6 separate regions of the Homo sapiens genome follow, and regions 1, 2, 4, 5 and 6 are each linked to region 3. The links come from fine-mapping of genetic effects on gene expression. A gene starts in region 3. Each other region holds a variant in brackets. All regions are shown on one strand. Distances are between the middles of the regions. Region 1 has its middle 41 kb from the start of TESPA1. Region 2 has its middle 100 kb from the start of MUCL1. Region 3 holds the start of TESPA1 (thymocyte expressed, positive selection associated 1). Region 4 has its middle 60 kb from the start of MUCL1. Region 5 overlaps TESPA1 (thymocyte expressed, positive selection associated 1). Region 6 has its middle 86 kb from the start of DCD.

The links. PIP is the estimated chance that this variant, and not a neighbour inherited with it, causes the effect.
Region 1: its variant is fine-mapped to the expression of TESPA1 in whole blood (TOPMed, PIP above 0.99).
Region 2: its variant is fine-mapped to the expression of TESPA1 in whole blood (INTERVAL, PIP above 0.99).
Region 4: its variant is fine-mapped to the expression of TESPA1 in prefrontal cortex (CommonMind, PIP 0.95).
Region 5: its variant is fine-mapped to the expression of TESPA1 in whole blood (TOPMed, PIP above 0.99).
Region 6: its variant is fine-mapped to the expression of TESPA1 in whole blood (INTERVAL, PIP 0.94).

Annotation. Positions count from the first base shown.
Region 1 is chr12:54,941,414-54,946,490 of GRCh38, forward strand. It overlaps the pseudogene LOC105369778. Among named protein-coding and RNA genes, the nearest start is that of TESPA1, 41 kb to the right of the region's middle. The variant G/A (reference allele first, on the strand shown) is at 1,958.
Region 2 is chr12:54,749,282-54,754,358 of GRCh38, forward strand. No RefSeq gene overlaps it. Among named protein-coding and RNA genes, the nearest start is that of MUCL1, 100 kb to the right of the region's middle. The variant G/A (reference allele first, on the strand shown) is at 3,092.
Region 3 is chr12:54,982,602-54,987,678 of GRCh38, forward strand. It overlaps TESPA1 (thymocyte expressed, positive selection associated 1), which reads right to left and starts at 2,161. Exons shown (of 11, transcript NM_001136030.3): 1 at 1,984-2,161. LOC107984515 (a long non-coding RNA gene) reads left to right here and starts at 2,250. Exons shown (of 2, transcript XR_001749161.2): 1 at 2,250-2,364.
Region 4 is chr12:54,792,113-54,797,189 of GRCh38, forward strand. No RefSeq gene overlaps it. Among named protein-coding and RNA genes, the nearest start is that of MUCL1, 60 kb to the right of the region's middle. The variant TAAA/T (reference allele first, on the strand shown) is at 2,491.
Region 5 is chr12:54,962,068-54,967,144 of GRCh38, forward strand. It overlaps TESPA1 (thymocyte expressed, positive selection associated 1), which reads right to left. Exons shown (of 11, transcript NM_001136030.3): 6 at 4,321-4,357; 7 at 3,986-4,084; 8 at 1,675-1,883; 9 at 364-1,175. Among named protein-coding and RNA genes, the nearest start is that of TESPA1, 20 kb to the right of the region's middle. The variant A/C (reference allele first, on the strand shown) is at 2,369.
Region 6 is chr12:54,731,519-54,736,595 of GRCh38, forward strand. No RefSeq gene overlaps it. Among named protein-coding and RNA genes, the nearest start is that of DCD, 86 kb to the left of the region's middle. The variant C/A (reference allele first, on the strand shown) is at 1,983.

The DNA.
Region 1 (5,077 bases), 41 kb before region 3:
TCAGCACTGAAAGGGGACAGTGAGGAATTGGGAGAAAGGCTTGGACAACATGGAGAATGCATGTAACAGTAAAAAAAAAGCACTTCTGCTCATGGCCATAGGTCCAGAGCTCTAGCCCTGGATGCCCGCCTGCGATCTTGATCACATTCCTTTGCTCTCTCTGGCCCTTTTTTGTTTCTTTACTAACAGACAACTGGGCTAGTCCTTTTGAATTGTGGTAGTCTGTAATTTCCAGCCTCAGTTTACCCATTGAGAATGGAAATATTAGCCCCTGCTTTGCTAAGTTCACAGTGTAACAATTTGCCTTACAGCTTGTAAACAAGCCTACAACCTTATCGAGACTGCAGTGCTGCGCTCTGCTTAAGAAACCACTGAATTGCCATGTGTCTAATCCATTATTCCTAAACAATGCAGCAGCTCTGCCATCCACCCAGCTTCTGTCACTCACATGGGAGAGAGGAGGGAACTGCAGAGTGGCCTAGAAACAATGAACAGTTGTTAAGCAGCAACCAGCCAGTTCCCTTGGAGTGTGGACTCCTTCCTCCCATCGCCCCATTGCCCCTTCACTTAAGGACAGTTTGTGGCTGGGGAGGCTGGCAGAGAAGCCTGGTCCTCCCTGGTAGCCAACTGGAGAAGGTGGAGCCAGGCAGATTCTGGAGAGACCTAAGGCAGCAGGGGAGAAAGGGAAGCCTTTGTTCTCAGGGCTAATAATAAAACTTGCTGCAAACTATTCGCACTCACCAACTCAATTGTTTCAGAATCTTTGAGGTGGGTGGAGAGGGTAGGGCAGCAGGGGAGCATATACTGTTTCTTTCTCCCTCCCTGGTGTTTCCCATGCAGATCCATTTGTCACTCCTCATGGTCTGTGTGGCCTGAGACTAGAGACTGAGGAAGCCCCTAGGGAAAAGAGGAGATTATCTTGATCATACCCCCGCTACCTCCAAAATGAGATCTCTGATAGACACACACTCTAGATGCCTTTCAGTTGTCCACTTTCAGTTGTGGAGGAGTAGTGTCTGGCAAAACTGAATGTGGGGATTGCCTCATTCTGCAGCCCCAACCCATTTCCTCATGGAGATGGGATCAAGGATGCTGTTAGTCTCTTAGGTTCTTAACATGGTTTGTGTCACATGGGTCTGAGTGAAGAGACCACCAAACAGGCTTTGTGTGAGCAATAAAGCTTTTTAATCACCTGGGTGCAGGCAGGCTGAGTCCAAAAAGAGAGTCAGCAAAGGGAGATAGGGGTGGGGCCGTTTTATAGGATTTGGGTAGGTAGTGGAAAATTACATTCAAAGGGGGTTGTTCTCTGGTGGGCAGGGGCGGGGGTCGCAAGGTGCTCAGTGGGGGAGCTTCTGAGCCAGGAGAAGGAATTTCACAAGGTAATGTCATCAGTTAAGGCAGAAACCGGCCATTTTCACTTCTTTTGTGATTCTTCACTTGCTTCAGGCCATCTGGATGTATACATGCAGGTCACAGGTGACATGATGGCTTAGCTTGGGCTCAGAGGCCTGACATTCCTATCTTCTTATATTAATAAGAAAAATAACATAAAATAGTGTTGAAGTGTTGGAGCAGCAAAAATTTTGGGGAGGTGGTATGGAGAGATAATGGGCGATGTTTCTCAGGGCTGCTGTGAGCAGGATTAGGGGTGGCATGGGAACCTAGAGTGGGAGAGATTAAGCTGAAGGAAGATTTTGTGTTAAGGGGTGATATTGTGGGGTTGTTAGAAGGAGCATTTGTGTATAGAATGATTGGTGATGGCCTGGATATGGTTTTGGATGAATTGAGAAACTAAACAGAAGACACAAGGCCCAAATAAGAGAAGAATAACAGGTATTAAAGGACTAAGAATGGGAAGACCCAGGACATCCAATTAGAGAGTGCCCAAGGGGGTTCAGCATAATTACTTGCTTGGTTGGCAAGTTTTTAGGCTCTATCCTTGAGTTTTTATGTTGTC[G/A]TATACTAGGCCAGATTGATTTAGATAAAAACAACACTTCATTAAAAAATATACAGAGTCCCCCCTTTTTAGCAGTAAGTCGGGGCCTTGGCGATTTTGGAGGAAAGAGAAATGCAAAGTCAGCAATTGTTTGTTGAAGAAGGATTAGAAATGGCTAGGAGAGAGTGAGTGAGATTGATAGTGTGGTAGAGATAGCTGGGGAGAGGTAGAGGGTGGCATAAGAACAGAAACGAGAATAAGAGTGAGTTTAAGGTAAAGAATAGGACTTCATCAGGGTGAAAGTATTGGAGGGTGCCCTGCCAGCAAAGATTATTTACTTTAAGAGGGAGTTAAGAGTGGTGGTTTGGGGATAGCACCAGGAGATATCAGCTGTGATGGCTTGGAGAAACAGTGTAAACCGGCAGTGTAAACAAGAGCAGGGCATTTATGAGTAGTTGGGAATGGTGAATAGAAGAATGACTAGACAGAAGATAGTAGGGATGACAAGTTTTTGGGGCACAATCCAAGTTGGGCTGGTGTCTGGAATGAGACTGGGGCCTAATAAAAATGAGCATCCATACAGGAGCTCAAATGGGCTGTACCCTGTAGCATTCCAAGAACAGGCCCGAATTCTGAGAAGGGTAAGTTGTAAAAGTACTGCCCAGTCCTTAAGTTGGAGGCTGAGCTTGGTGAGGTGTGTCTTTAAAAGACCATTAGTCTGTTTTGCTTTTCCTGAAGATTGAGGATGGTAAGGGGTATGAAGTTTCCACTGAATACCAAGAGCCTGAGAAACTGCTTGGGTGATTTGACTAGCAAAGGCCTGTCTGTTATTGGACTGTATAGAGGTGGGAAGGCCAAATCATGGAATTATGTCTGACAGAAGGGAAGAAATGAACACGGTGGCCTTCTCAGACCCTGTGGGAAAGGCCTCTACCCATCCAGTGAAAGTGTCTACCCAGACCAAAAGGTATTTTAGTTTCCTGACTTGGGGCATGTGAGTAAAATTAATTTGCCAGTCCTGGGCAGGGGCAAATCCCTGAGCTTGATGTGTAGGGAAGGGAGGGGGCCTGAACAATCCCTGAGGAGTAGCAGAATAGCAGATGGAACACTAAGAAGTGATTTCCTTGAGGATAGATTTCCATGATGGAAAGGAAATGAGAGGTTCTAAGAGATGGGCTAGCGGTTTGCAACCTACATGGAAGAGGCTATGAAATGACAAAAGAATAGAATGGGCCTGTGAGGCTGAAAGGGGATATTTTCCTTGGTCTAAGGACCATTTTCCTTGTGTGGGAAGAGATTGATAGGTGGAAGTTTCAGTGGGGGAGTAGGTGGGAGTGACCGATGAGAAGGAGAAAAACTGGCAGTTAGGGAGAGAAATTGGAATGCTAGCTGCTTCTTTAGCTATCTTATCAGCATAAGTGTTGCCCTGAGTGATGGGATCTGATGCCTTTTGATGGCCCTTGCAGTGAATGACTCCAGCTTCCTTTGGAAGTATAGCGGCCTTGAGAAGACTATTTGTTAAAGAGGCATTAATGATGGAGGACCCTTGTGTAGTGAAGAAACCTCTTTTTGCCCATATAACAGCATGGTGGTTCAGGATATGGACGGCATATTTAGAGTCAGTATAAATATTGATGTGTACTCCTTTTGCAAGAGTGAGGGCTCAAGTTAAGGCAATGAGTTCGGCTTGCTGAGAGGTAGTGGAGGGGGGAAGAAAGTATATGCATCAGATGTGAGGAAGAAAATAGATTTTGGAAGTTATGACAACTGCAGAGAGTGAGTTGAGCATAGTTTGTGATTTTGAGGACCTCTAAAAGTATTAAAGCAGTGGTACCTGCCACATGCAGACATGAGGGCTAGGCTAAAACAGTAACGTCAAGTTGTTTGGACAGAAAGGCTAAAGGGCGTGGTCCCAGCTCTTGTGTAAGAACTCCAACTGCACAGCCCTGCACTTCAGCTGTGTGTAGTGGAAAGGGAGTGATAAGTTAGGGAGAGCTAGTGTGGGAGCTGTTTTTTAAGGAATGGATAGGGGAGTGGAGAAAGGATTTAGGATCTATGGGGTCAGCTAGGTTTACCTAGAACAGAATAATGGGTTGTGGAGGGAGGTATTGAGGATAGGAGAGTATATGAGGTTTCACACCACAGGGTGGATACGCAAAACAATTTGGTTGATAAGGCACAGATCCTGACGTAACCTGTAAGACTTGTCCAGTTTCTGGACAGGTAAAATGGGGGAATTGTAAAGAGGGTTTATAGGCTTTAAAAGGGCATGCTGTAACAGGCAAGTGATAACAAACTTTAATCCTTTTAAAGTTTGCTGTGGGATGGGGTATTGGCATTGAGTGGGATAAGGGTTATTAGGTTTTAATGGGATAGTAATGGGTATGTGACCAGTTGCCAGGGAGGGAGTAGAGGTGTCCCATACCTGTGGATTAAGGTAGGGAGATACAAGGGGAGGATTTGAAGGAGGCTTTGAACTGGGGAAAAGGGTGGCAATGAGGTGTGGCTGTAGCCTAGTCAGGGAAGCAGATAATCTAGTTAAAATGTCTTGGCCTAATAAGGGAGCTGGGCAGGTGGAGATAACTAAAAAGGAGTGCATAAAAGAATATTGTCCAAGTTGGCACCAGAGTTGGGGAGTTTTGAGAGGTTTAGAAGCCTGGCTGTCAATACGCACAACAGTTATGGAGGCAAAGGAAACAGGCCCTTTAAAAGCAGGTAATGTGCAGTGGGTTGTCTCCATATTGATTAAGAAGAGGAAGGACTTACCCTCCACTGTAAGAGTTACCGAAAGCATCTGTGATGGTCCAGAAGGCTTCTGAGGCAAGTGGGCAGTGTCAGTCTTCAGCCACTGAGCCAAGAAGATCTGGGAAGGAGTCAGTCAGAGAGCCTTGGGCCAGAGTTCCAGGGGCTCTGGGAGTGGCTGCCAGGTGAGTTGGACAGTCCGATTTCCAGTGGGGTCCTGCACATATGGGACACAGCTTAGGAGGAATCCCAGGCTGTGGGCATTCCTTGGCCTAGTGGCCAGATTTCCAGCACTTGAAACAAGATACTGGGGGAGGAGGTCCTGAAGAAATGCCTGACTGCTGTGGCTTAGGCGTTTTGAAGTTCTTGTGTGCTGGAGATGTGGCTGGAGTTTCTCTC
Region 2 (5,077 bases), 230 kb before region 3:
ACACAGTGCAATGGAGTTTATCTCTGCTGCTTGTTCATTCTTCCTGATTTTACTTTTGGATACAGCGTCTTAAGTTTCGTTACTGCACAGTTTTACAGTGACCTGCAGATGGCAGTATAGCCCAATTTAATGCAATGCCAGTAATAGAAAATGCCCTCTATTGAATGGTTTTGTTTTCCTCCCATTTTCATATCTCCATACAAAAGTTATGTCTCTAAATTGCATATTCTGCACCCTGATCCTACAGAGAAATTAGCTTTTAAGAATATTTCTTTTTTTCCCCAATTACAGCCACATGAATCCTTTCTGGGGAGGGTGGGTGTGGGTGGAATCTGGGTGGCTTCCTCTGCAGCTGCCTCAGACCCTGGGCACTGGTTACATTTTCAGTTTCAGCACCTACGTCAAAAGCTTATTTAGGGAAGGTGATGGATATATTAATCAGCTTGAGTTAATCTTTCTACAATCTATACATATATCAAAACAGCACACTGTACCCCATAGATATATACAATCATTATTTGTCGATTAAAAAAAGCTTATTGGTGAAACACATCCAACTATCGATGGAAATAAAGTGTTTCATTTTTCAAATAATTGCATCAAAAGCACTAATATCGTTACCCCACCCCAGGGATTTACTGAAGCCTCCTTGTTCTCCCTTTGGGTCTATAGATGAAGCTTAAAATTCTGACTTTCTCCCTTCCTGTGGTTCCGGGAATCCTGGCATCTTGATGCTACATTAGTGTTGGTGCTACCTATGGGCACTACCATGGTATCACATTCCTACAGCCTTACTCACCTGTTCTGCTCATTCTGTTTCTCTCTTGAAGGAACTCAAGGATATTTCCAGCATCATGTCATTTACAATTACTGCCATAGCTCCCAAGAAGGTTTTTATGCCAGAAAAATCAAAGAATATTCTGCCTTGGCCAAGCCATTTTTCTTCTAAGCAAGTGCTCCTTAGAAAGATAAATGTGCAAAAGAGTCAAGAAAAGCAAAGCAGCAAGGTTTTTTGGTTTGTGGTTAACAAACTCCTTTTAACAACTGCTTCCTCCCTACTTTCTTCTTCTTCTTCTTTTTTTTTTTTTTTCCGAGATGGAGTTTTGCTCTTGTTGCCTAGGCTAGAGTGCAATGGCACAACCTCCCTACTTTCTTTCCTTGACTGAGGTCTGTCTCTCTCTTGTAGATGCTCATATTTTTAAAACCTCTTAATGGGAGACTGCTCCTGATCCCACATTTCACATTCAAACAAAGGATCTTTTTTTTTCCACCTATACCAGCTTCCACCTTCCTCACTTTCAGACTTTCCTGGCACACGTGGACGCCTCCAGTACTTGCTCCATCATCTGCTGTATTTTAAGCCCTCGCATCCTCATCATCTAGTGTCCCTACTCCTATTTGTCTTTCCAGAGCTTTTCGACTACCTCTTTCTGGGAGGGCCCAAATCATGTTCTTCTTATTCTTTGTTTTACATTTTTACAACCTGTTATTTCACAACCTGTAGCCAGCTATTAAATAGTTATTGGATTAGATTGATTGAACTGCTTATTATCTTGCACGTGGTTCCTAAAGTAGAGATGTCTAGGAAACTGTGATACCAGTAATCCTTATGCACACCTTGGCTATATACTGCTACTGGTAGCTTAAAGGGAATACATTTCCAGATACTCAGTTTCCACATACTCTTTTCTAAAATTTGTTTGCCTGAGAACCAGCCTGTAACCAAGAAATCCTGCTGATGTGTCTTTCCCTTCTCGCTTTTCCAATTATCCTTCTATTTGAAAAAGAAAAGCAAGTTTCTCACCTATGCAGAACGGTGTAGATGCATTACACTGATGCAAAAAAATCTCTAAGACATCAGAGGGATATTTGAAATATGGTGCCAGTGTTAAGAAAGTGAATGACTTTAACGACTGAATAACCAGTCATTTTCCAAATCAAGTGGTGTCTAACTTTTTGTCAACTAATAGACTTTTACTTTTTTGGTAATAGATGTCTATGTGATGTTTCAAACATATAACTTAAAAAGGGTTCAAAGAATTGAGTTACATTGTTGAAAACGTTTATCTATTTTTGTCAACTGATTTATTTGAAATGATATTGTCAGTGCTTACAAATAAAAGTAGGAAATACAAGTAGCTTTGATGCTGAACTCTGTATAATTAAGTAACATTCATTCTTAGCTTCATGAACTAATTGGAGAAAGTCCCATCTATGAGATACATTTCCAATGTTATGTTTGATATTTGTCAGGATTTATAAGTTACATGTACTATTTTGATCAACAGTGAATAAATAAAAATTGTATCAGAAGTAAATTTTTAGCATTTGGAAACTTATGGCAACAGAAAAATTTAAATAATATACATATGTTCATTGCAGAAGAATATGATGAGGTAATCAATAACACTTTCAAGTACAAATATATATTAGGATAAAATTCTGTGGGAGGATAGAATATAAATACAAGTTCAAGAAGAAAAAAGAATCTTCTGAAATTTTTAGCTTTAAAAGTACCTTGTCTTTTAAAAATGTTTGATGGTGGGTGTCAAATTGCTATGGCATTTAGATTCCGCTGGATACATTTAAAAGAGTGAAGTAGCAGTTTTATTTAAAATGTCAGTATTATAATGTGCGAGAAGTTATATCACTTGCAACTATTTAAGCTTAAATAGTTTCTTTAAAAATCTTAAATGCCAATTACAAAATGTACGAGAGGAGATATAGTTTTTCCACATCTTTTTAGGGTGCTTGTGAGTAAATGTTTAGGAATCACTGGGCTGGGCCACAGAGTATCTCCTTTGACTCCAGGCCTAAATGGCCCCCTTCTGCTCTTGCTCAAGATTGAATTTTAGAAGTTACTACATTAGTACAATGACAGTTTAAATCTATAAATGTTAGAGGAGAAAGAGCCAAAGTGAGAATTTCCCCATTGCCTCTACCCACTGAAAACATGTCTTCATACTTGTTCTGAGCTTTGATCATTCAGAGCAGCACTCCTAGAGAATAAGTCAGGTATCAGTTGTCAATAGAAACAGTGAGGAAGGAGTTTGTACAGCAATCAGAGACCAGCAAATGATACTATGAATCT[G/A]AGGAATAAAATCAGTGAACCTGTGAATAACAAATTTGGACATGCTTATATAATTTTAGTGAAATACATTCCTTTTTGGGGGGATATCTTATGAAAACTATTTTAATTTGAATGGTAGATATGTTTAGATATGCTTAGTGACTATTATGGGTTATACATGCATTATAATGTGTACATTATACTATGTTATGTATTGAGTTGTGGCATGCCAAATCCAGGTTCACAATTTGAACATTTGCCACGAAACTACTATAAAATTCTACAATTGTTACATTATTATTTTCTTTTTATGTATGTTTCCCTGCCTAAGAATGTGGGAGATTTGTCAAAATTTGTCCTGTTTATTCTTGATTATTTTGGTGATTAATTTGTTAAATTTTCTAATATTTTATATTGGATGCTTTAAAATTGGGTGATTGTCCAAGTGGCTCATAGGCATTACAGTTTGGTTAATAAGGAATAAATGAATACTTAAGGCTGCTTAGGTATCTGTAAAGTCAAAGATTATAGTGTGTTCCCTGGCTCTGGGCTTTCTCTGTTGTGCTGTGGATTTAGGAGAACGAGAAGGAATCAGCAGTGAAATTCCTTCTGACTAAAGATGGACATCGCTTATGAACAGATGAACTATATTAGTAGTGGGAGAAGGGGAGATAATCACAAATGCTGCAGAGACTAAAAATACAATGAAGATGTCATGAATAATTTCATGGTAATGAATTTGAAAACATGAAATGTGCAAAGTTTCATAAAATGTAAATTAATGAAACCAACTCAAAAATAGAAAACCTCAATGGTGTTATGACAAACAAATGGAATCTGTAGTTAAACATCTTTCCATAAAAAGCAAGCAAACAAGCAAACAGATTACAGTAGGAGGTTTTACACATAAGTCATACCAATAATTTCAAGAATAAATAATTCCAAACATATACAACTCTTTTTGACAATATAAGAGGGAATACTATCTACTTATTTTATAAAAATAGCATAACTTTGACACTAAAATCTTTTTTTTGAATTTTTTTTTTACTGGTATGTAATAGTCATACATTTTTTGAAGTACGTGTAATGTTTTGATACATGCATGCAATGTTTAATGATCAAATCAGGGTAATTGAGATATCCATCACCTTAAACATTGATCTCTTCTCTATGTTGGGAACATTCCAATTCTTCTCTCCTAGCTATTTTGAAATGTGCAATATATTATAGTTAACTATAGTCACCATATTGTACTATCAAACAGTGCCTCTTATCCCTTTTAACTGTATTTTTGTACCCATTAGCCAATCTCTCCTCATCCTTCCTTCCTAGCCTCTGGCAACCAGCAGTCAACCCTCTACCTTCATGAGATCACCATGTACAAGTGAGAATATGAAGTATTTGTCTTTCTGTGCCTGGTTTATTTCACTGAATATAATGACCTCCAGTTACAGTCATTTTACTGCAAGTGACAGGGTTTCATTCTTTTTTAAATGGCTGAATAATATTTTATTGTCTATATGTACCACATATTCTTCATGTATTTGTCTGTTGATGAACATTTAGCTTGATTCTATATCTTGGCTATTATGAACAATGCTACAATAAACATGGGAATATAGATCTCTCCTTGATATACTGATTTCCTTTCTTTTGGACATATACCCAATAGTGGGATTGCTAGATCACATGGTAGTTCCATTTTTAGTTTTCTGAGGAATCGTCATACTGTTTTCCATAGTGGCTATACTAATTTCCATTCCCACCAACAGTATATAAGTGTTCCCCTTTCTCTGCATTTTTTTTGTTGTCTTTTTGTTAAAACCCATCTTAACTGGGATCAGATGACATCTTACTGTGGTTTTGATTTGCATTTCCCTGATGATTAGTGATGTTGAACATTCTTTCAAATACCTGTTGGCCATCTGTATGTCTTCTTTTGAGGAATGTTTACTCAGATTTTTGCCCATTTTTAAATTGGATTAGTTGCTTTTTTTGCTATTG
Region 3 (5,077 bases):
TCAATGTAGGGAGACATCAAATATCTTCATTTGAATGGGCAATAAAGACATCAAGAATAAGAAACAGCAGTTTATCTGAGCTGATTTATAGATGGCTTCATCAAGAGAAAGTAGGGAGAATGAGCAGATTTCTCAACCATTGTGTTAGCTCTGTGAATTCGTATCTTTAATTCTTCAGTTTCATTTCCTTGGTAATAAGCTCTGTCCTGCATATATTCATTTTTCTTCTTTCCTGCTTTTCTTTTTCAATATCTACACACTCTCTTCTCCTCGTCCCTCTACTTATTTGACTGAACTCTTTTCTCAATCTGAAATCTGTGTTTAGGCCATTCTGCATCAGGCCTGGGTGTTGTAAGGCACACAGTACTGTGGGTACTGGAATATCCACTTTGGTCTTGTGCCTTAGGTGGAAAAGAGAACAGTTGTCAGTTTGCAGGTGGAAATAAACGTGTGATCTTTTCCCCTTACTGTAGCCCAGAAGGAATCTTGTAAGTCACAGCATTGGCTGAGACGAGACCTCCATACTAGAATCCAAATCAAACATTGAACTGAAAATGACGGTTGGGGCTTCATGTTCACTACATAATGCTGAATCGCAGGGTTCCATCTTAATTTTCAAAAAACCCAAGAGTTATGAGAACATGTTGGTAGCGTGGTTGTAAATGGTTTCTAAACACCCTGGGGTGCATGCGAATAACTCAGATGTTAAATTGCTTTCTATCCCTTCTGCTATATCTTCAGCTTGTTATTTCTGATAATAGTCCAAGTAGAGACAGACAATAAACCTGACTTCCCTTCTTCCTACTAACACTTCATGCTGCAAGACAATATTGTGAGATCTTTATCTCTAATCACTCAGCTGAACAACTATTGAGTCTGATACTTGGACACACAAGTTGAAGGTTCCTACCTCCAACCTCCCATCCTAGGTACTGCCCTGCACCATCTAGAAAGTCTCCTTACCTCTCTACTCAGGACCATTTGTGGTATACAGAGTCACTAGTACTTCCCTGGATATCTCCTGTAAATGCTCACAGTCTTGTCAAATCACTTCTGTGGAACTCTCCTTTCTTGTCCTTGCCCTGCCCTGGGGACCCACCCTTTTTCTTCCACCCACTGGTGAGCTTAGTGGCACAGAAGGGGCATGGGAAAACCCCAGGGTGGAGGATCTTTCCACTCCTCCATCTACCCCAAAACTCATGTAGGTGGTGATATGCTCTGCCTGCTACCACTGGGGCAAGGGGTGTTGGAGGAGCATGAAGCCCCCAATATTATGTAGGTCACTGAGAAGGCAACACATCCATCTATCTATCTTTGAGATGTGAACCCTGAAATCTGGTCCTGATGGTGGCTATCCATCTATCTTGAGCCTCCCGGTGAATTTGACCTTACCTCACTCAAGTGTGTACATCCTCCCTCGTAGCTGACCTCAATATATCTTGCTGCAGTTTATCTCAACAAGTTTCTTCTACAGCTTCTGAAGAAAGAGGTCATACCCACAGAAAGCAAAGTTGATTTCAGCCAGGTACTCTCAATGGTTGGAGCTATGGACACTAGAGTAGGGCCTGAAATGAAACCGGGAAACTTCTTCCTTGAGAACTTTTCGATGTTATAATCAGATGGAAATTGCAGCAACAATGAGTTCAGCAAGACACAGAGAAGAACTTTGCAGGTGAGAAAGGTGAAAAAAAATTCCTAAAATGTTATTCAAGTCATCAAAGAGACCCAAGTTTTGAGAATCTAGAAAGATTACCTCTCTGATAATAAAGAGAAAACAAACAAACGAAAGCAAAAGGGCACCCAGCATCGTTCTCCTAGGCATAATGATGGATGCTTTTAAGGTTGAAGTAAGAGTGGTGGGAGATTTTCTCTTGATTTTCCCTTGACTTGACAGCCTGATTTTTCTCTGACATGTTTCCTTCTTTCTCCTAGCATCACCCTAAATCAGTACAGCCTTGAAACTGAGATAAAGGCTGTGCTTACCTGTCTGCTGGTAGAAAGCTGAGTTTGAGGCAAAGCAGTTGTCGAAGCTGGGCCGAGGCCTTCACAGGTGTGGGCACAGAGGTGAAGCAAGTGAGAAAGTATCATGTTGTAGATTATGCCTTTCTCCCTGAACTCATTCAACTGCTGTTGCCTGCTCAAAAGGGGAAGCGGAAATGAGAACACACCACACACACACACATCCACACATGTAGATGCAGTCCCCGCCTCCTGGCCCAGCCACATCCTTTGCTCCGGCTCAGGAGACTGAGCGAAGGACAAACCATCCGTAGACACGGTGCTCACAACTAGGAAGACCTTCCTGCCCCAGAGCTGCCTCTGTCTTTCCAGAAAAACAGGAGATCTTTTCCTATTAAGGCAAAGGTACAGTCCATTTAAAGAGGTGTGTGCAGGAGTCTTCCTACCATATAACTAGAATTCCACTGCTGCAGATAAATCCTTCTGTCCTCAGGAGAGCTGTCTGAAAATGGGAAAGCTCTCTCTCATAAATGATCTGGCGTTTATCTCAGAGAAGAAGTTTCCAGTCGTATCACACACTTGAGAGGGCTCTGAGCCAGTCGCTCTGTGTTGATAACTTTCATACTCTGGTAAATTCCCCCGAAGCTTGTTTTTGAATACTGACTACTTTTTTTTTCTGTTAGTTTCTTAACTTTGTTTTATGTTCAAACCACTTCAAAGTTTTTGTTTTTGTAGTAAATGACTGCTTTCCCCAACGTTTTCAAAGCTGAACTTTTAAAATCGGTTACACCCTGAAGATGTCTTCAGTTTATTGGTTTTCAGTTTGGAAAAGGCTTGTTGAACTCTAAAAGGTTTCTCCCAGGCCTCAATCACTTTCACCCACCGGGAGCATCCAGCACTGCTAACTATCCCTCCTCGCTTCTCCAGTATCTCTGAACACTCTTCTCCGTAGGATGCTGCTGCATTTTGGATATCTTCTTTCTGTCTCTCTCCTGATTCTACTGTTTCCTTCTTTAAATCATTTATTTATGAATGTATATCACAATATTTATTCTACAAGGCACTCCTCTAATGTGTTAATTGTGACTGATTTTCACATGTTCATTACCTTCTTTCTGATTTTTTGGCTATAGGTATAGTTAGATTTTTTTTTTACCATGTTTCTAAATTCCATTTCCAATCATCAATGGGACAACTCCATTGAGTATCCATAGTATAGCTATAATATGGTAGAAATAATCCTAAATAAAATTCTTGCTTGGCAAATTAAGTTCTCAAAACATTATTTTCTTCAAGTATAATGTGAGGAAAATAACAATTCTCTCTGTTTCTCACTCAACCCTTCTCCCACGCTATTCCTTTTACGTAGGCATGAAAATATCTAACATATTTTCTCAGGACATAGTAGATGCTAAATATGTGCTTCTCTGAGAATTAGCTTCACAGTCAACAAGTAAAATGCTAAATCCAACACGCCCTAATTCTCTTTATTTACTATTCTTTTCCGTACAAATTAACTATAAAAGCTGAACTAATGGAAACTTAACAACTCTTTTAAATCCTAAGTTTCTAGAATTCAATGTTTTCCTTAACAGTTGTTTTCCAATATGTTTGGGAAATGGAGAATATAACTTCGGTAGGGAGTTTGGAAATATGTGAGAGAGATTTAATTTTCAAAGAAATGGGAAGCTGATACTGGTATTTAGTACCTGAGGGCCAATGATGATAAGTGCTTTTGAAGGGATGGGACTCTTCAGTATAAGGAATAATTGTCCTGGCCCAAATGTCAACATTTTGTTAACATTGATAGTTTGATGGTTAGGAGAGCAGGCTTTAGAGTGAAGCTCTGGCATCAAGTAGCTCTGTAGTCTTGGATACGTTAACATCTCTAGGTCTCAGTTTGTTAGCTGCTAAATGGGGATAACCTTACAGGAGTGGTTGTAGAGCTATAAGAATAAAGGAATACAGAGTATTCAGTCCAGCGCCTACCTTACAGCAAATGCTCAAGAAATTGCAGCTATTTTTAAGACTCTTGAAATATAATAGTTTCTTTTAACTTTTATTTTAAGTTCAGTGGTACATGTGCAAGTTTGTTACATAGGTAAACTCCTGTCATAGGGGTTTGTTGTACAGATTATTTCATCACCCAGGTATTAAGCCTAGTACCCAATAGGTATTTGTTTTGATCCTCTCCCTCCTTCCACCCTCTACCCTCCCATAGGCCCCAGTGTGTGTTGTTTCCCTCTATGTGTCCATGTGTTCTCATCATTTAGCTCCCACTTATAGGTGAGAACATGCGGTATTTGGTTTTCTGTTCCTGTGTTAGTTTGCTAAGGATAATGGCCTCCAGCTCCATCCATGTTGCTGCAAAGGACATGATCTCATTCTTTTTTATGGCTGCATAGTATTCCATGGTGTATATGTGCCACATTTTCTTTATCCAGTCTATCATCACTGGGCATTTGGGTTGATTCCATGTCTTTGCTATTGTGAATAGTGTTGCAGCAAACATACATGTGCTCGTGTCTTTATAACAGAATGATTTATATTCCTCCAGGTATATACTCGGTAATGGGATTGCTGAGTCTAAAGATATTTCTGTTTTTAGGTCTTTGAGCAATCGCCACATTGTCTTCCACAAGGGTTGAACTAATTTACACTCCCGCCAACAGTGTATAAACATTCCTTTTCCTCTGCCACCTCGCCAACATCTTTTATTTTTTGACTTTTTAATAATAGCCATTCTGAGTAGTGTGAGATGGTATCTCATTGTGGTTTTGATTTGCATGAAATATAATATTTTCAGTTTCTGCAGAATACTATGTCTATCTGTCAAAATTACCTCACTCATTAAAGATACCATTTCACAAGCAATTGCTAGAGATTTTTTTGTTAATAAAAAAGATGTATTAATTTTTGGTTTTTATTTATATTTATTCTTAATTTTTATGAGTACATATGTAGGTTTATATGTTTATAGTATTTGTGATTTATTTTTTGAAAGAAATATTTTTCTCTTCTACAAGCAGCTTCTGAAAGACAAAGATGAAGACTATATGATTCCTAGGAGGAGGAGGCGGCCCAGGGTATTCCTCTGTTTATCTTCTTTCTCAGTTGT
Region 4 (5,077 bases), 190 kb before region 3:
GCCAGGCAGAGACACAACCAAAAAAGAGAATTTTAGACCAATATCCTTGATGAACATTGATGCAAAAATCCTCAATAAAATACTGGCAAACCGAATCCAGCAGCACATCAAAAAGCTTATCCACAATGATCAAGTGGGCTTCATCCCTGGGATGCAAGGCTGGTTCAATATACGCAAATCAATAAATGTAATCCAGCATATAAACAGAACCAAAGACAAAAACCACATGATTATCTCAATAGATGCAGAAAAAGCCTTTGACAAAATTCAACAACCCTTCATGCTAAAAACTCTCAATAAATTAGGTATTGATGGGACGTATTTCAAAATAATAAGAGCTATCTATGACAAACCCACAGCCAATATCATACTGAATGGGCAAAAACTGGAAGCATTCCCTTTGAAAACTGGCACAAGACAGGGATGCCCTCTCTCACCGCTCCTATTCAACATAGTGTTGGAAGTTCTGGCCAGGGCAATCAGGCAGGAGAAGGAAATAAAGGGTATTCAATTAGGAAAAGAGGAAGTCAAATTGTCCCTGTTTGCAGACGACATGATTGTTTATCTAGAAAACCCCATCATCTCAGCCCAAAATCTCCTTAAGCTGATAAGCAACTTCAGCAAAGTCTCAGGATACAAAATCAATGTACAAAAATCACAAGCATTCTTATACACCAACAACAGACAAACAGAGAGCCAAATCATGAGTGAACTCCCATTCACAATTGCTTCAAAGAGAATAAAATACCTAGGAATCCAACTTACAAGTGATGTGAAGGACCTCTTCAAGGAGAACTACAAACCACTGCTCAAGGAAATAAAAGAGGAGACAAACAAATGGAAGAACATTCCATGCTCATGGGTAGGAAGAATCAATATCGTGAAAATGGCCATACTGCCCAAGGTAATTTACAGATTCAATGCCATCCCCAACAAGCTACCAATGACTTTCTTCACAGAATTGGAAAAAACTACTTTAAAGTTCATATGGAACCAAAAAAGAGCCCGCATCGCCAAGTCAATCCTAAGCCAAAAGAACAAAGCTGGAGGCATCACGCTACCTGACTTCAAACTATACTACAAGGCTACAATAACCAAAACAGCATGGTACTGGTACCAAAACAGAGATATAGATCAATGGAACAGAACAGAGCCCTCAGAAATAATGCCGCATATCTACAACTATCTGATCTTTGACAAACCTGAGAAAAACAAGCAATGGGGAAAGGATTCCCTATTTAATAAATGGTGCTGGGAAAACTGGCTAGCCATATGTAGAAAGCTGAAACTGGATCCCTTCCTTACACCTTATACAAAAATCAATTCAAGATGGATTAAAGATTTAAACGTTAGACCTAAAACCATAAAAACCCTAGAAGAAAACCTAGGCATTACCATTCAGGACATAGGCGTGGGCAAGGACTTCATGTCCAAAACACCAAAAGCAATGGCAACAAAAGCCAAAATTGACAAATGGGATCTAATTAAACTAAAGAGCTTCTGCACAGCAAAAGAAACTACCATCAGAGTGAACAGGCAACCTACAACATGGGAGAAAATTTTCACAACCTACTCATCTGACAAAGGGCTAATATCCAGAATCTACAATGAACTCAAACAAATTTACAAGAAAAAAACAAACAACCCCATCAAAAAGTGGGCGAAGGACATGAACAGACACTTCTCAAAAGAAGACATTTATGCAGCCAAAAAACACATGAAGAAATGCTCATCATCACTGGCCATCAGAGAAATGCAAATCAAAACCACTATGAGATATCATCTCACACCAGTTAGAATGGCAATCATTAAAAAGTCAGGAAACAACAGGTGCTGGAGAGGATGTGGAGAAATAGGAACACTTTTACACTGTTGGTGGGACTGTAAACTAGTTCAACCATTGTGGAAGTCAGTGTGGCGATTCCTCAGGGATCTAGAACTAGAAATACCATTTGAGCCAGCCATCCCATTACTGGGTATATACCCAAATGACTATAAATCATGCTGCTATAAAGACACATGCACACGTATGTTTATTGCGGCACTATTCACAATAGCAAAGACTTGGAACCAACCCAAATGTCCAACAATGATAGACTGGATTAAGAAAATGTGGCACATATACACCATGGAATACTATGCAGCCATAAAAAATGATGAGTTCATGTCCTTTGTAGGGACATGGATGAAATTGGAAACCATCATTCTCAGTAAACTATCGCAAGAACAAAAAACCAAACACCGCATATTCTCACTCATAGGTGGGAATTGAACAATGAGATCACATGGACACAGGAAGGGGAATATCACACTCTGGGGACTGTGGTGGGGTCGGGGGAGGGGGAAGGGGTAGCATTGGGAGATATACCTAATGCTAGATGACACGTTAGTGGGTGCAGCGCACCAGCATGGCACATGTATACATATGTAACTAACCTGCACAATGTGCACATGTACCCTAAAACTTAGAGTATAATTAAAAAAAAAAAT[TAAA/T]AAAAAAAAAAAAAAAAAGAAACAGGAACTAATGCCAATGCTATGGACTTAGTTGCGTCCCCCAAAATTCATTGTTGAATGAACCCATCACCCAATGTAATGGTACTTAGAAATAGGACTTTTGGGAGTTAATTAGGTCTAGATGAGGTCCTAGTATGGGGTCCTTGTGATCGGATTAGGACGCTTGTAAAAAGAGACAGCAGAGAGTTTGCTTTCTCTCTCCATTATGTGAAGACACAGGAAGAAGGTGGTAGTCTACAAGCCAGGATAAGAGCCCTCACTAGAACCCCACCATGCTGGCATTCCAATATTGAGCTTCCAGCCTCCAGAATTATGAGAAAATAAACTTCTGTTGTTTAAGTCACCTAGTCTATGGCATTTTGTTGTGGTATCCTGAGGTGACTAAGACAGACAGTTTAGAGGTTACTTCTTGGGGGCTCATTCACACAGTGCGTAACCATAACATCTGCTGAACATGCTTACGGGAAGTTGTTTGGCACGCTGAAACTAAAATGTAATTGGAGGTGATTATTACCCATATGATGTTATCTTGGGAAAGACAGAATGAAACAGGGTATATGATGAGGCCCATAAGAAACTTGGAATCCAAAATTAACTTGAACTTAGCCCTTGATTCATACACCAATCCATGATAGCGTTTGGTATATCGACAAGGGCCACTCTATAGGGAAGGCTGAGAAAATACTGTTGTAATTTGGACTGATTTATTTTACAGTGATCTTAGTTGAACTCATAATATAACTACTCTTTGGTGTAATATTGGTGTCATTGGTAAGATTACTGATTTATATTATAATCTTCGTTCAACTTATAATACAACTATCTGGTGTAATACTCAGGTTACTGGCAAAATTAATTTTACTGATTTACTTAAACCTTATCTGATGATACAAATTAATTAGAGTTTTGGCAGTTATTCCTTTGCTTTTTTTTTTGTCTCCTAAATGTTGCCAAAGATGCAGAAGGAGGAGTGATGAGGAGCAATTTTTATTTAAAAAGCCTTGCCCAAGAGTCAGAGGGTGAACTATAGGGGATTTAGTTGACTTACAGCTGAATCGAAAAAACTCTAACTTTATCTCTGGAGGCTCCTGGATGTCTGCCTTTGGCTCTTGGTCAAAATAAGGGCAGTGGGATTTATGATGTCAGAAACTCCCCAGGCCAGTTTGTTTGTTGATAATTTACAAGTGTCATAAACTGGCTCAAATATGTGCCCAATGGGGCATAACAACCCCGCTGGGAACTTCTGTGTTACACTTTCCTGAAGCTAGGATTTCTTGCACAGATCTTGGTGGTTCATCTGGAAACAGAGTACCTCTCTGGGTCAATGAGAACCCTGGGAACTTCTGCACGATTGTCTCTCGGACTCCAATGCTCGTTTATACGCTCTTTCTCTTGCTGCACCATATCCTTTGCCTTTAAATATCTTAGTATTCCCTGTGGGGTTTAGAGAGGACTTTCAAATATCTGAACTTGGGAAATATTTGCATTATCCTACCACATTTCTCTAAAACATAATAGGCAAAAACATAAATTTGTATTTCATTAGTTTATAAATATTGAAGTGTTAACAATTTGGCATCAAACAGAAATAGCATTATAAAATAATTAGTAAAATTAAAACAACATTAATATGGTACAAACTATGATAAATAGTGCACAATAAAAAATTAAATATAGAGATAAAGGAAAAGCATCTTCTATCTCTTACATTACAGCATACTTAGAAGTCAAGAACTTCACTTTTATGTCCTTTAAAGGTGAGTGAAGATGGAAAATAGACAAGTGTATTCCTGACCTGGAGACCCCAGATATCCTGATTGGGGCTTCAATTCTAACCTAAGAGACCCAAAGCTATGCTAAATTGGAAACAAATTTCAAGTCCTGGTTTGTGTTTGAGTTTCAGTGATCAGGAGGTTTATTATCTTGAGCAAGTCCTCATATCCTGTTACCACTCTGATGCCTCAAATTCCATATTTTAAAAATCTAGGTAAGAATAATATTGAGTGATTTTATGAGAATTAAATAAGTTGATGTGTGTATACTTGATATAAAAATAAAGTGTTACACTAAAATGTATCTTATAATGACTCAGTAATATAATTTTTCATATTATTATTTCCTATTCTCACTGGCTCCATGATTTGCTGCAGAATCTGCCCTGGCACCCAGGGTTCTTCTGCATCTTCCCACTCACGAGTCCTGTGAATACAGAAACACTGTGTGTTCTCAGAAAGGAGCAGCATGTCCTTGGCTTCAGCCATGGCTACTGTTTGTTTACTTTGCCCAGCATTGGGATTCTGCTGGTTCTTGAGGCCCTGGCACAAATTTGGGTAATTGTATCCTTCTGGGTACTGGCAACCTTCTCCTATTTTCTGTGTCCTGTTAGGTCCTAGGTGAGAGAGAGATGAGCTTTCAGGTAGTGGATTAAAGCAAGAAGCCAAAAATGAGAGTTAAGACTTTACTCATTTACTGCAATGGTATAAGCAAGAGGCTAACACTGGAGAAAATGCTCAGTCCACCTGTTCCATTTTCCGCTTGAATGGCACACTAGTCAAGGGTCAGG
Region 5 (5,077 bases), 21 kb before region 3:
GTCAAGGTAAGGGAGAATTTATTTTATTTAAGAGTGGTTAGCTTTGTGTAAAACTGCTCTCCATTTGTAATCTCATGAGGACCACAACAAATGGTGATGAGAGGTGTACTTAATGGGAACATTAAATGGCAATCAGATCAGGTATTACCAAAGGAGCTCTGAAAACTCGACTGCTCTTAGGAAACCAGGCCTCTGTCTCTTTCTCCCTGTATATTAACCCTGAATTGAAATCAGAAAGTGGTATATCTGGCTAGGACAGGAAGCCTGGATTATTTTTCCCCCAAGGGTTCTAACCCTTCATCTTCTGGGAAAGAATCTACAGCCTTTCTCTGCCAGTCTCTCCCTCACCTCCAACCCACTTACCTCCTCCAAGTCAAAAGTGTCCTGTGGCTGCTGGCTTAAAGACCGACGCAGTTCTGGTCTGTCTACACTCTGCTTCCATTTCTGCTGGGTGATGGACAGGTCCAAGGACTTAACCTTCCTGCCCATGAGATTCTTCTGGAAGAGGCTCTTTCTTGCTCTGCTCTTTCTTTTCCAGAAAGTCTCATCCTTGGCTGGATGGGTTTCCGTATTGGTGGCTGGTAGACTACACAGCTCTCTCCTTATCTGAGCTGGGTCTGTGCTCCACTGTGGATCTTCTATGGGCAGAGAATGTGTGCAACAGGGTACCTTGGGGTTCGAATCCAGAGTTTGGGATGGTGCTAGCACTGTGGACATCCTCTGCTGTGTTTCCTCTTCACAGCAGAAGACACATGGATAGGGAGAAGTGGGCAACTTCTTACCCTCAGCAGGGGGCACAGGATCTTCCTGTGAGAATTGCCCCAAATCAGAGTCTTGCTGGAGGAACTGCTTCTCTTCTTTCACTTTGTCCATCACTTCCAACACAACTTGGTCCAAACTGTTCCTTTTGGGGGTGTTGTGGGGTGGTGGTGGCCGGTCTCGGGGGCATGTGTACAGACACATCTTGGAGATGGCTTTCCGAAGGCGGTCTCTGGGTGACTGGGGTTCAGGCTCTCGGGACAGAATCCTGATGGATGGCACATCAGTTGGATGGTTGCAATTCCAGAACATGTGGGATGGTGTGAACTTTTGGACAGGTGTCTTAGACACATAGGAGTAGAGACAGAAGAAGGCATCAGCAGTGACAGCCAGTGTTTGCACCTGCTTAAACCTGCCTGGGTACAAGAGTTAAAGATGGTAAGTCTGGGGTTCATCAGCAAATCTTCTTAAATCTCTCCCTTCAGGAGGCTCCCCAAAGCTCAAAATTCAGGGAGAAGCTTCCAATTTTCCTACTAGTGTTTCTCCCTTTTAGATTTCTAACACTCTTTTTCTGGAATTTCGTAACTTCTTGACACCCCATCCCATGTAGATATTCCAACTGGGAAACAAAAAAGAGGGATAAGATTTATAGACATCATGCTGATATGATTGACTGAAAGGCAAGAAGGCCTAAAGGAAGCAGTAGTGGCCTGAAGTCTCTTAAAGGCTATTTCTTTAAGAGAAAGAATCAGACAGAGTTCTCCATCTTCACTGAAGACAACATAAGAGGAAATAGACACAATAGGCAAAGGGTTAAAGATAACCAAGAGAAAGCAGGATTTGAAGCCACTGAGCCCTGCTGTGAAAATCTAAAGGAAAAGGGAAGTAGAGCAGGTGCCTGGGAGGGACACTCACTGGCCAGCATGAGGCAGGGGTCTTCCATTTCAATCCTCCGCACCTGGGACTTCAGGAAGAGCTGGAAATCAATGCCCTTGGCCTGAGAGGGGGTGGTGAAAAATCGGGCGGGTATCCGAGAAGTGTCTTTGTGATCCTCTTGGCCAAAGCCCAGACTGAAGAGGACATCTTCTGCATCTTCTTGCACTTTGTCCAGAATTTCTGAGATGCTGAAATGAGGGAGTTTGGGTAAATAAGGGACAACTTTGAGACACATGGTAATTCAGAATATCAGAATATCTAATAAAAGTGTCAGAAGACTGAAATTCTTTTCTGTCCATTTCTCTACTTTTCACTGTGACTTTGAGAAAAGCTTTCACTTCTCTGAACCTAAATTATCTGTTGGAAACATGGAAACTACAATCCAACCCTAGTTATAAAAACTGAATAAAATTTTAGTACAGTACTTTGAACAACTTATTGCAGACGAATAAAAATTTAAGTAAATATAAAAGGATTTTGAAAAATAAGAGCAGCATAGATACAAATAAATTTCACAGTTGCATCATTAAGTGCTCAGTTCCCAAATTTGCCATCCGACTTGCCCCAGTGGTTGTTGCGTGGGACAACTAAGCAATGAATATGTAAGAAACATAGAACCCCTGAAGGTAAACATTTTTATTCTTGATCTTAGGGCAAAAAGTAATCAATAAGC[A/C]CATCCAAAACCTGATTTTGAGAGGTATGCTCCTTTCTAGCACTATTTTCAGTACAGAAGTCCTGTGTCACAGAAGATCCCGTGCACGCACTCTCTCTTTATGGTATCAACCTGGATTTATGTCTAAATCGGAGTTCCACCAACTTGGGTGACACTAGAGCTTAGTAATTGTGTTTCAGACAGTGAGGCTAAGGGAAGCTGTTATTATTTGAGGCTTTGAATAATCACTATCACTCTCTTCAGAAAGTATGCTGGGCTTTTTGATCAAATAGGGACCATCTTGTTTAGCTAATAGCTGGACGGTCGGAATCCCTGGATCTACTCTTGTCCTTGCCAGCTTTTATCTCCATGGTCCTAAGTTTCCCTATCTGTGAATTGTGGGCGTAAAACTGGATCAGTGCTTCTCAACCATGGCTACATGTTAGGGTCACCTTTGCAGGCTTTAAAAATGCATATATTTGAATCCCATCTTCAGACATTCTGATTAAATTGAACTAGGGTATGAACTAGGACTAAGGCTCAGTGAGGATAAATTACTAAATTTGGTCATGTGACAAAATTTAAGTCTCAGAACCAGGTCTCAAATTCAAATTTTGACTTCAAATTTCAGATACTTTTCATTATATCATACTAGTTTTCCTGACTTTTCATCTTTTTCAAAGAGTTATTTGTGTGTATATTTTGTCCACCCTATGAAATCATTCAGCTCCTGGGATCAAGCTATTTGTCCGCTTCATCTTTTCTTTTTTTATTTTCATTTTTGTTTTAAGTTCTGGGGTACATGTGCAGGAAGTGCAGGTTTGTTACATAGGTAAACGTGTGCTAGGGTGGTTTGCTGCACCTATCAACCCATCACCTAGGTATTAAGCCCAGCATGCATTAGCTATTTTTCCCAATGGTCTCCCTCCTCTCACCCCATCCCCTGACAGGTCCCAGTGTGTGTTGTTCCCCTCCCTGTGTCCATGTGTTCTCATTGTTCAGCTCCCACTTAGACGTGAAAACATGTGGTGTTTGGTTTTCTGTTCCTGTGTTAGTTTGCTGAGGATAACGGCTTCCAGCTCTATCCATGTCCCTGCAAAGGACACGAACGCGTTCCTTTTAATGGCTGCCTAGTATTCGTGTATATGAACCACATTTTCTTTATCCAGTCTATCACTGATGGGCAGCTGGGTTGATTCCATGTCTTTGCTATTGTGAATAGTGCTGCTTCATCTTTTTCAAATTCCATACAGTCATTGCCTGGCCTGCCTGTCCGAATGAATTAATATTTTATTGCTTCATTCAGTCAACAAATTAGTCAATTAATCAATACATTGTTTACTGAGCACCTACTCTGAGTCTTGGAACTGTGATGGTACCAGTACTATACCTCCTGGGGTACAAGTTTCAGTGGGAGGAGACACCTGTATTTTACACATAGTATTCAGCTCTGAGAAGACTCCTCTGTGTCTTTCACAATTCTTGAAACAAATATGGTCACATTTTTCAAGTATGCAGTAAAAGTGCATAAAAGCTCCAGTAAGATATCCCAGAAAAAACAGGCAATGGCTCTTGGTTCCATTCTCCTATGCTTCTCATCTTCTCCACCCTTCCACCCTGCCAAACTTCAGTACCTACCTTGAACTAGTCTTGTTGGTCCCCCCAGTCATGCTGCTGGAAGCCAAACTACAGCCAAGATCAAGTAGCTGGCAAGGCCTGGCTGTCTCGAGGAAACTCCTGCAGAGATCAAAGCTGATGTCATACAAATCTTGTTTCCAGTCTGCACCCTGGCTTCGAGGAATCCCTGCTGGACTTATTCACCCCCTGAACAGTAGTCTATGCAGTGCTTGTTCGTTGGAAAGTCTCACTCTCTAATGTGAATCTTTAGCTCTTTATTTTAATCTCTTTGACCTACCCCAATTCACTGATTCTTAAAGGAGACATCATTCACCCTGGCTGAACCTAACACTTACCTGGAGAAGAGTTTGCCATTGGCGGCCAGTAGTGTGGCTGGACAAGAAACAGAGAAGCAAAGAGCAAATTAGAAGGGAAAATGAAAATCACCTGTGTTGCCCCTCTGAACCTAAAACTCAGTCCCCTCTGTTTCTTTTTGTGACTATGACAGGCTAGCTGGACCCCATAAATTCTGCACTTCTTGGGGCCTCAAGATTACCTAACACAGTTCTGGAATAGGGACAGATATGCCAGAGAGTAACTGGCCTTAACCCTATGAACTTCTGACCCATGACTGATGTTTAGGCAAGAGCCCCTCTGTCCTAAAAAGGATAGAGTCATTTGGCCTTCCTGGCTAGTGTTCCTGTCCCCCTACACAAGTCTTTACAGCTCCCAGGAGACACTGGTAGGTTGCTGTGCTTTCATTCTTTACTGATGTCCTTCTCCTCCTGCAGTATAGTCTCTATTTTACATCCAATGCACAGACTTGTTTGGAGTTTCTGTACAGAAAACAGTCTTAAAGCTATCTGGGCAGCAAACATTATAGTAATTTTATATGTTATCATCCCAGGGGCCAAAGGAAAGTTCCAGTGATGAACCAGTAAGAGTCATGGTAGGCTGATGAGGAGGTGTTTCTGGGCATGTGATGCCTTCTGCATTTTACATTAGATAATAATGAGACTGCCCTTTCCCTGTAGATAAGACCCCAGGGATGGGCTGTTTCTTTCTGAAGTTTTGCACTTCCATCCTATCCTGAATTCATACAATGTATATCCT
Region 6 (5,077 bases), 250 kb before region 3:
CTGAAGTTGCTGAACTTGTCGCCCTTACTAGAGCTTGCACATTGGCAAGAAACAAACAAACAAACAAAAACCAAAACCAAAAAACTGCCACTATTTATGCAGACTCCAAATATGCCTTTGGAAACTGTCGTACACTTGGTACAATTTGGAAATCCTGTAGTTTCTTAACCTCTGCTGGCACTTCTATTGCCAATGGGCCTATAACTGCTGGCCTATTATAGGCTATCCACCTTCCCACTAAGATTGCTGTTGTTCATTACCCAGCTTATACCAAGGATATGGATACTGTACCCCAAGGAAATGATTGAACAGACAGGGCTGCTAAATCTGTGGCCAAATGGCCCTCCCTATCCTTTTTATACTCAATTTATTAATCTGCCCTTATCCCTGTCTAACATTATTGATTATCAGGCTAGTGCCTCACAATGTGAAAAAGGATAAATGGATATTAAAGGGTGCCAAACAATTATCAGATGGGTTGTATACTGGGCCAAATAGACCCCCATAGCCCCTTTCCTTTTAACTCTTTGCCTTGCACTTATCTCCCATCAGATGGGATGTATATGCAAATGGGGAATAATTAATAAATTAAAAGATAGTTGGTACTGCCCTGGGAACTATAAAATTTATGGCCAAATTATTTCCCAGTGCACTATTTATAAATATCACCAAATCTCTAGAGGAAACCAATATTCCTCAGGAAGCCCCCAAAGGCCCATGTTGCCCCTTGCCGCGCTCCAAATAGACTTTATGGATTTACCTCCAGCTTTGTGCTTTTCTCACTGCTCCATTATTTTTCTGCATGTTCAGTGGGTGGACTGATGTTATCCAACTAGGTGTGCTGATGTTACAGCTGTGGTAAATAAATAAGTAGCAGATTATTCCTCATTTTGCTATTCCCTTATGGATTGGGTCAGACCCATGGACTTATTTCACAGCAGAAATAAACCACTTGCTTGCAGAGGCTCTGGGGTACTCATTAAAATTTTATACCCCACATCATCCCCAATCCTCAGGGCAAGTGGAACCTAAAAATTTAGACAGAAAAAGAATTTTGGGAAAATTTTGTCAAGATAGTGGACTTAAATGGCCAGAAGCATTATCTCTGGCCCTTATAAAAATCTCTAACACTTCAAATAGGAGACAGGGATTAGCCCCTTTTAAAATAGTGTTCAGTCACTCCTTACCTACTGACACCTCTAAACCTTCTCTTCTTGGGCTGAATGAACACCATGGGGATTTTTATTAAAAATTTTACTTTACGTTCTGGGATACATGTGCAGAACGTGCAGGTTTGTTACATAGGTATACATGTGCCATGGTGGTTTGCTGCGCCTATCAACCCATCATCTAGGTTTTAAACCCTGCATGCATTAGGTATTTGTCCTAATGCTCTCCCTCCCCTTGTCCCCCACCCCCCGACAGGACCCGGCATGTGTTTTTCCCCTCCCTGTGTCCATGTGATCTCATCTTTCAACTCCCATTTATGAGTGAGAACATGTGGTATTTGATTTTCTGTTCCTGTATTAGTTTGCTGAGGATGATGGCTTCCAGCTCCACCCATGTCCCTGCAAAGGACATGATCTCATTCCTTTTTATGGATGCATAGTATTCCGTGATGTATATGTGCCACATTTTCTTTATCCAGTCTATCATCAATCGGCATTTGGGTGGGTTCTGTGTCTTTACTATTATAAATAGTGCCACAATAAACATACGTGTGCATGTCTCTTTATAGTAGAATGATTTATATTTCTTTGGGTGTATACCCAATAATAGGATTGCTGGGTCAAATGATATTTCTCGTTCTAGATCCTTGAGGAATGGCCACACCGTCTTCCACAATGGTTGAACTAATTTACACTCCCACCAACAGTGTAAAAGCGTTCCTATTTCTCCACAGCCTCACCAGCATCTATTGTTTCTTGACTTTTTAATTGAAAGGTGATTAAAGATTGCCTGAACTTATCTCTCTCATACTC[C/A]CTTTGATCTTTCGCTGTGACTCTTCTTTTGAACTGTGCTTTGCTTTTACTAATTCTTGCTATTTTTCTAGACGGTCGGGCACAAACCCTTTGCACCAGTCTTTTAAATCCTGACAACATTAGTCAGTCTAATTTTGGTTATGCCAATATCTAGATGATGCAAAAGAACCTGAAATTATTTTTGTTTCTGCCAGTATGAGCACCTGGTGGATTCAGTCTAGAAGATGGATGTATGACAAGATATGGCATCCAGAACCAGAGAAACAAAGTCACATTGCCTCTCTTATGGTAAGTCAACTGGACACAGAAAAGCCACCATGGAAGCTCAAAACTGTCTTTTGCTTAGATAAAATTACTAGAAAGAAAATTTTCCTTCTGCATTGAAAACAGGAATGATGCTGGACCCTTGCTAGGTGACATACTAGGCAATATTGCAATCAGACCTTATAGTTTGATTCCACAGATGGCATTCTTGCACTTCTTACACAGACCATAGGTGGTCCTGATGCTGACTCATGAAATCAATATTTATCAAATCACCAGATGTTATGGATGGCTCACAAGCCAGCCCTGGTGTGCAACTTGGGGTAGCTTACCTGTCAGATACTAAAGATTACATATGGATAGACCCAAAGTCTGGACTGATTTGGCTAGGTGACAAAACCAAGCCCTATAACAGCCAAAACTAAAGGTCTTTTATATAAAATATTTCACAACCTGTTTTGCTCCCACAGATTGACAGGGAGACATGATAGCTGCAGATGTGGAAATGCCAATAACAAAGAAGACAAGGCACAGCAAACTTCAGGCTGAGGCGCCACAGGCTTCACCCTGACCCTATCTGTAAATAACAGCGGCCTTTTAATATTGCGTGGTAACAAGATATACAAGTGGTTCCCACCTAGATACTCAGGGTGCTGTGGACTCAGTTATCTGACATCCTCTGTTACTAGGTACTCCACTTTAAATGGCAGCCAAATTACAAATGGGCCTTTTTGTTCATAAAGTGGTGCCACACAGAGGTAATGAATGTGACTTTGTAAAAAACCCACCTATATATCACAAATCTATGTTCTTTTCAGTCCTCAGAACTTTTCCCCTGGCATTTGGAACTTAAGAAAATGAAAGGGCAGTTTAAAATCTTTCCATGGCAATAGAACAAGACTTCAGTATCACTACCCAAGCCTTGGGAGCACTCCAGTCAGAAGTCAACAGTCCAGCTTCTGCTGTACTTTAGAACTGCTGCAGCCTGAATGTGCTGACAGCCCAACAGGGAGGAGCTTGTGCAGCTATTGGTGACAAATGCTGTTTCTACATAAACCGCTCAGGGCAAGTAGAGACTGATCTGCACCTCTTGAAGGTCAAGGTAAAATATTATCCATCAGGTAAACAAGGCTAAACTGTTCTATTGGTCTGACCTATTCCTGGGAATGGGAGACTGGTTTAATGGGGTGTGGGGAAGTGTGCTTAGATATGTTCTTTTCTCATTTTAATCTATGTTCTTTTCTTCCTTTTCAGATCTCTTACTACCCAGCTACTAAACCAACTTCTCTCTCCAGAGCCACTAACTTAGGATTTTTTTTTTTTTTTTGAGACAGAGTCTCACTCTGTCACCCAGGCTGGAGTGCAGTGGTGTGATCTTGGCTCACTGCAACTTCCGCCTCCCAGGTTCAAGCAATTCTCTGCCTCAGCCTTCCAAGTAGCTGGAATTACAGGTGCCCGCCTATAATCCATACCCAGCTAATTTTTGTATTTTTAGTAGAGACGGGGTTTCACCATCTTGGCCAGGCTGGTCTTGAACTCCTGACCTCATGATCCACCTACCTTGGCCTCCCAAAGTGCTGGGATTATAGGCATGAGCCACCGCGCCCGGCCTAACTCAGCTTTTTATGTGTGAAACTTCTAGGGGAGTTCCAGACAGGGAGAATGAATAAGCTCCTTGGTATAATGTATATTTTGAATTAAAAGACTTTATAAATCAACAGGCCTCAGAAGAAACTTATCCCCTAACTTCAAAAAGATCAGATAGGCCCATCAAGAACAATTGCCTTTTCTTCCCTTCCCTGTTATCTCACTATTTCAGGAAAGAAGAGGAAGAATATAACCATACCAGAACCAACCATTTTACAAAATAATACCTGTCTCTCAGGTTCTTTTAACTTCCAAAGAAAACCATTTACAAGTCAATTTCTGTTCTCACCTTCCATTCATTCTCCTAAGTACCTATTCATTTTTCCTTAGTAATTATTTAATGCCCCTCAACCAGAATTACCTCTATATTCCCCATCTTCCCCCTCCCCTCTGAAAGAGGTTATAGAAGTGTCTGGGCCCTGTTGGGAAATTGGGTAATCACTCTATGATTCTTCTCGAGCACATGGTTAAATAAATTTGTATGCTTTTTGTCCTATTAATCTGCCTTACTGTAAATTGATTTTTTTCAGCAAACCCTCTGAGGGCAAGGGGAAAGCTCCTCCAATGCCCATACACAAGTGAAGAAGATCAAGAAGAATTTATCACAAACCTGCCTTGCTATACAAGTGTCTGATGTACAAAAGACTGAAGTGAAATACTTGTTAGCACCAATAAAATATAACTCAGTGACAAATTTTCTAAAAAGAACTTTGTATCTAGGATTGATAGGCTTGGAAAAATCTTACAAACTTTTCTTCAACATCTGAAAGTGTTTTTCAGTCTATAGTAATTGTCAGGCCTCTGAGCCTAAGCTAAGCCATCATAACCCCTGTGACCTGCACGGATACATCCAGATGACCTGAAGCAACTGAAGAACCACAAAAGAAGTGAAATAGTCAATTCCTGCCTTAACTGATGACATTCTACCACTGTGATTTGTTCCTGTCCCACCCTAACTGATCAATTGAGCTTGTGACATTCCTTCTCCTGGACAATGAGTCTCAGGAGCTCCCCACCGAGCACCTTGTGACCCCCACCCCTACCCTCAAGAGAAAACCCCTTTAACTGTAATTTTCCACTACCTACCCAAATCCTATAAAACTGGCCCACCCCATCTCCCTTTGCTGACTCCTTTTTCAGACTCAGTCTGCCTGCACCCAGGGAATCAAAAAGCTTTATTGCTC